Regions from separate parts of the Homo sapiens genome. Here region 2 is linked to region 1. The links come from fine-mapping of genetic effects on gene expression. A gene starts in region 1. The other region holds a variant in brackets. All regions are shown on one strand. Distances are from middle to middle. Region 1 holds the start of HIRA (histone cell cycle regulator). Region 2 overlaps LOC105372859 (a long non-coding RNA gene).

What was found.
Region 2: its variant is fine-mapped to the expression of HIRA in whole blood (TOPMed, PIP above 0.99).

The regions. Positions count from the first base shown.
Region 1 is chr22:19,430,659-19,433,542 of GRCh38, reverse strand. It overlaps HIRA (histone cell cycle regulator), which reads left to right and starts at 1,810. Exons shown (of 25, transcript NM_003325.4): 1 at 1,810-2,103. The coding sequence starts at 2,067. MRPL40 (mitochondrial ribosomal protein L40) reads right to left here and starts at 998. Exons shown (of 4, transcript NM_003776.4): 1 at 936-998; 2 at 195-278. The coding sequence starts at 988. RefSeq lists silencers at 924-1,233, 1,524-1,923 and an enhancer at 2,208-2,884.
Region 2 is chr22:19,315,918-19,318,823 of GRCh38, reverse strand. The region is part of intron 1 of LOC105372859 (a long non-coding RNA gene); the gene reads right to left. Among named protein-coding and RNA genes, the nearest start is that of CLTCL1, 26 kb to the right of the region's middle. The variant G/A (reference allele first, on the strand shown) is at 1,146.

The sequences.
Region 1 (2,884 bases):
AATTTTAAAAATTACAAACAACAATCTATGGTTTGGAAAATGTTGGAAAAACAGAAAAGCATCGGCCTAAATTTAACTGAGAAACTTTGTAGGCTGTTAATTTTGCAAACCACACATCCAGCATTCTTGCTTTGTTCTCTACACATAGACTGACACCTTTACCCCCAGAGGTCAGGCCCTCGATTGAGTTTTACCTCATGGGAATGAGTTCCCAGAAAGACAACAATGACGCTCGCTGGTGAGTCTCTCTAAGCTGCGTCTGCCAAGTTCCCAGAAGCCTGAAAGATACAAGAGTATGTATAAATATCTGCTTCTCCAGGCTAGGCGCGGTTGCTCACGTCTGTAATCCCAGCACTTTGGGAGGCCGAGGCGGGTGGATCGCGAGGTCAGGAGTTCAAGACCAGCCTGGCCAACATGGTGAAACCCCGTCTCTACTAAAAATACAAAAATTAGCCGGGCGTGGTGTTGGGCGCCTGTAATCCGAGCTACTCGGGAGGCCGGGGCAGAACTGCTTGAACCCGGGAGGCAGAGGTTGCAGTGAGCCGAAATCGCGCCACTGCACTCCAGCCTGGGCGACAGAGCGAGACTCTGTCTCAAATAAATAAATAAATATCTGATTCTCTCCCACTTCACAGGAAAATAAAAAATTGCAATGCTCCCAAACCCGGGGCACTTCTAACTACTTGATATGACAGCAAGGTCAACGTGGAAGGTTTTTCAAAATCTTTCGTTCAGACCACAGAGGACTTAAGCAGGACCGCTGCTCGCCAGGGTGCTCAGATTTTCATGCATAAGAGTCACGACCAGATGGCTCATCCCTGAGATATTCGTGGACTGGGAGGCGAGCAGGGAGCACAGGCGAGTCCTGGCGGACAGTCGCGAAGACCCCGCACGCGCCCTGGGCACTCCGCTATCCGGCCAGCGTCCGCACTCACCCGCTAGTCGGGCGCAGGGCTAGCGAGATACTTCGCAGCACGGAGGCCGTCATGGCTACCCTCGCCGCTTCCGGGCGTGCGCCCCTCCACAGTCCGGCCCGCGGTGCCCCCTGCTGAGGTCCGGCAGACCAGGCGCCCAGCGCTCAGGCGTTCCGGCTGCGTGGGCTGGGACGCGCCTGTCCCCGCCCCCGACGCAGCCCCGCCTAGGGTGTCAGCTGCGCACACACGAGGGCCTTGCGTTTCACGCGGCTCGGGGTCCTCCCTTCCGTCCCCGCCCTGTGCTGGGAGCGCGCCTCTGCAGCGGGCACAGTCTAGCCAGTCAGGCCCTAGCCGGTTGGTCGGTCTGCGCCCTCGCGCGGGCCTCGGCTCCGCAGTGCAGCCGGAGCGGCCGAGGGGGCGTCCCTCTGCTCCTCCGAGTCCAAATGTTCATGTCTAGGCAAACGGCCCCGATCTTCTAATAAACGCGTCCGCCCCAGCCTCCCCCACCAGGGTTGGCTCGTCCCCCGCATTCGTTCGAGTCCGAAGCCCGGATCGCATTCCGGCGCCGGCGCGGAGCCCGGCGCTCGCAAGATGCCCAATAGCGCGTGTTGATGAATGACGGAAGCTAGTTAATAAGTCGGACTCAGACTGGCGAGGCAGAGCTGGTGACGGGCGGTCCACGCCACCTGGGCCCCGCCTGCCTCTGCGGGCGGCCCGGGTTGCAACTGCAGGCCCCGCTCGCTGTCCGCCGTCCAGGCGAACCGCCCTTTCTGGGGCGCCCGCGCCCGGGCCCGACCCGAAGCCCCTGCCAGCGGAGGAGCCGGGGCGGCCCAGTCCGCGTGGGGAGCGGTTTCCCGCCGGGGCGATTTGGCAGGTGCGCGCCGTGACTTCCGGCGTTGCCCGGGAGCCGCCTGAGGAGGAGCGGCGCAGGGGATGCGGCTGTGGTGGCGGCGGCGGCGGCCGAGCGCGGGTGGCGGCTGTGGCGGCGGAGGGGGGCGCGGGCCGGCGATGGCGCGGCGGCCCTGAGGGCGCGGGGCGGGCGGCGGCCGGAGGGCGGGTGGCGCGGGAGGAAGCGGCGGCGGTGGCTCCATGGCCCGGGCGCGCTGAGGGACCCGGCGCTCGCCTCAGCCCGGCGGCGGCGGCGGCCGAACAATGAAGCTCCTGAAGCCGACCTGGGTCAACCACAATGGTGAGTGCGCGCAGGGGTCGCGGGAGGCCGAGCCCGGAGTCGGGTCGGGGTCTGGAGTCGAGTCGGGGCGCGCGCAAGTCCTGCCTGTCTCGCCCCTGACGCCCGGTACCCGGTGCCCAAGCCAAGAAGCCGGCGGGAGCGGACTTTGTCCTCAGCGCGGAGAGGCTGGTGAGCCCCAGCACGTGCTCCGGGTTGACCGCAGCGAGGGCCATCTTCGCCCCTGGCTCTTGCTCTGAGTCTTCCGCTGCCCACCTGTGGTCCTTGGAGGGGCCGCGGCCTGGCTCCCAGGAGCGGGCCTTGGTGCCAGCCAGTGCCTTCCACTGGTCTGCATCGCCCGAGAAGTGCTCAGACGGTCCTGAAGGTGAAACCGGGATGAAATCCCCCTTGTGGCCTTTCAGTGGCAGGATGAAGATCCGAAATCTGCAAGAGGGACTGTTACTGCCCCTCTGGATCTGGGGACAGTGCCCCCAGTTGGGGAATTGTGGTCCCTAAATAGGAGGGTTTGGGGGCCCCGGGCCCCCGCGAAGGATCCACGATTAATGCTGAGCTGGGACATCAGGGTGAACTAGGGTTGGGCAGATAGGGCACAGGTGTGTTCTAGCAGAGGGGCTTCTTAGCTCTGTGGCAGTGGCTCCAAAGCACACCCTTGGGGAACGGACTCATCCACCCCATATCTTGACTCTGATACAGAGAGGCTAGTGGTAATCAGTTTCGTCATAGTTCTGCCTTGTTGGCAGAACTGCTGCAGGAGTTGGTGTTTGCTCCCCGGGTAGATGAAAAA
Region 2 (2,906 bases), 110 kb after region 1:
TGACATTGGTAAAGGAACGGAGTAGAGAACCCATAAATAAACCCAAACAAATGAAATCAACTGATCTTTGATGAAGGAACAAAGGCAATTCAATAGAAAAATATTAGTCTTTTCAATAAATACTGCTCTAATAAATGCACCTGTAGTCCCTTCTACTCAGGAAGTTTTGCATTTTACACATGCAAACATAAAAAAAAGAATCTAGACAGAAATTTTTAACTGCTGCTCTGAGAACATCATTGCTAAGAGAATGAAAACCCACAGACTTGGAGAAAATATTTGCAAATAACTTTTCTGATAAAGGATTTGTATCCAATATATACGAATAACTCCCAAAATGCAAAAATAAGAAAATAAGCATTCCAGTTTAAAAATGGACAAAATATCTGAACGGAGCTCACCAAAGAAGATATACATATGGCTATAACCATATGAAAAGACGCTCTACATCATATGTCATTAGGGAATTACAAATTCAGAACACAATGAGAATTAGCTGGGCATGGTGGCATATGCCTGTAGTCCAGCTACTTAGGAGGCAGAAACAGGAGGACCTCTTGAACCCAGCAGTTTGAGGCTGCAGTGAGCCATGATCATACCACTGTACTCCAGCCTGGGCAAGAGAGTAAGAACCCATCTCTAAAATAAATACATAAATAAATAAATAACAAAAACAACAATGAGAAACCACTATACACCTATTAGATAGGCTAAAATCCAAAAACCTGACAGTATCAAATGCTGACAAGGATGTGGACATAGAAAAACAGGAATTCTCATTCATTGCTCTTGAGAATACAGCCACTTTGGAAGATGATCTAGTAGTGCCTTCCAAGCTAAACATAGCCTAACCATATGGCCCAGCAATTTCACTCCTAGGTATATACCAAAATTAGTTGAAAACTTATATACACATAAAAACCTACACATGAATGTTTATAGCAGCTTTATTCAAAACTGCAAAAACTGGAAGAAATCAAGATATCCCCTCAATTGGTGAATGAACAAACTGACACATTCATACATTGGAATATTATTCAATGATAAGAAATGAGCCGGCTGGGGGCAGTGGCTCAGGCCGGGCACGGTGGCTCATGCCTGTAATCCCAGCACTGTGGGAGGTCAAGACAGGCAGATCACCTGAG[G/A]TCAGGAATTCAAGACCAGCCTGGCCAACATGGTGAAACCCCTTCTCTACTAAAAATACAAAAATCAGCTGGGTGTGGTGGTGCGTGCCTGTAATCCCAGCTACTTGCGAGGCTGAGGTAAGAGAATTGCCTGAACCCAGGAGGTTGAGGTTGCAGTGAGCTGAGATCGTGCCACTACACTCCAGCCTGGGCGACAGACCGAGACTCCATCTCAAAGAAAAATAAAAAAGAAAAGAAAAGAAATGAGCTACCAAGCCATGAAAAGACATGGAAGACCTTAGATGGATATTGCTAAGTGAAAGAAGCCAATTTGAAAAGGCTACATACTGTATGATTCCAACTAAGTGACAATTTGTTGTTTTTTGTTTTTTTTTTTTGAGACAGGGTCTCACTCTGTCACCCAGACTGGAGTGCAGTGGCATGATCTCTGCTTATCGCAACCTCCACCTCCCAGGCTCAAGCAATTCTCCTGCCTCAGCCTCCTGAATAGCTGGGATTACAGATGCATACCACCACACCTGGCTAATTTTTGTATTTTTAGTAGAGACGGGGTTTCACCGTGTTGGCCAGGATGGTCTCGAACTCCTGACCTCAAATGATCCACCCGCCTCAGCCTCCCAAAATGCTGTAATTACAGGCATGAGCCACCACGCCCCACCTAAGTGACATTCTATAAAAGGTAAAACTACAAAGACAGTGAAAGATCCAGTGGAACTGTTGTGGGAATCAGGAGACTGGAGAGACCAATAGGTAGAACAGGGGGATGTTATTGAGTGCACTCTGGCCTAGTGGATTAACATCCAAAGACCGGGCCTAGAACAAAGACAGAACTTGACTTTTATACACACTTCTGAAAAGGGGTTGGCTAGTTTGAAACAAGGTTACAGTGATGCGAAGTGTAGTGGTGTGAAAGCAAGTGTATAGAAGCAGAACAAAGGCAGTTAATCAAACTATGACAGTTAGATTATGCCTGCTCAGGCATGTCTCATGACCTTTGCTGTGCTGCTCGGATAAAAAACAGAATACTTGAGGTTACTAGTTACAGAAAACAGGAATCTGGCCAGGCGCAGTGGCTCACGCCTGTAATCCCAGCACCTTGGGAGGCTGAGGCAGGTGGATCACAAGGTCACGAGATCGAGACCATCCTGGCTAACAAGGTGAAACCCCGTCTCTACTAAAAATACAAAAAATTAGCCAGGCATGGTGGCGGGCGCCTATAGTCCCAGCTAGTCAGGAGGCTGAGGCAGGAGAATGGCGTGAACTCAGGAGGCGGAGCTTGCAGTGAGCTGAGATTGCACCACTGCACTCCAGCCTGGGTGACAGAGCGAGACTTCATCTCAAAAAAAAAGAAAAAGAAAACAAAAGAAAAGAAAACGGGAATCTATAAAGTCATAAATGTACTCATACCATAGGGGAAAGGAAAATAAGGAAAATTTGTTTTTCTTCTCCTTATGTGGAGGGAGTGCTGGGAGAGTCTCCAGAGCACATTCCTTTGAGCCCTGGCTTCTTAGATAATGTTATCGAGACTTTGCCTGGGTCTGGGCTTTGCCTGTTACTGACTTTGGGATGAGCCAGCCTAATACAGAAAGCTTGTTTTTTTGAACATATTTTTCTCTTTTTAATTTTATTTTTCTTTCTTTCTTTAATTCCCACCTCAGAACTGTTTCAAAACTTTTTAGCTATTCTAGGGCTTGTATGTTTCCAAACAAATTTTAGTATAAGTTTGTCTGCATCTACAACAACAACAACAAAGTTGCTTGG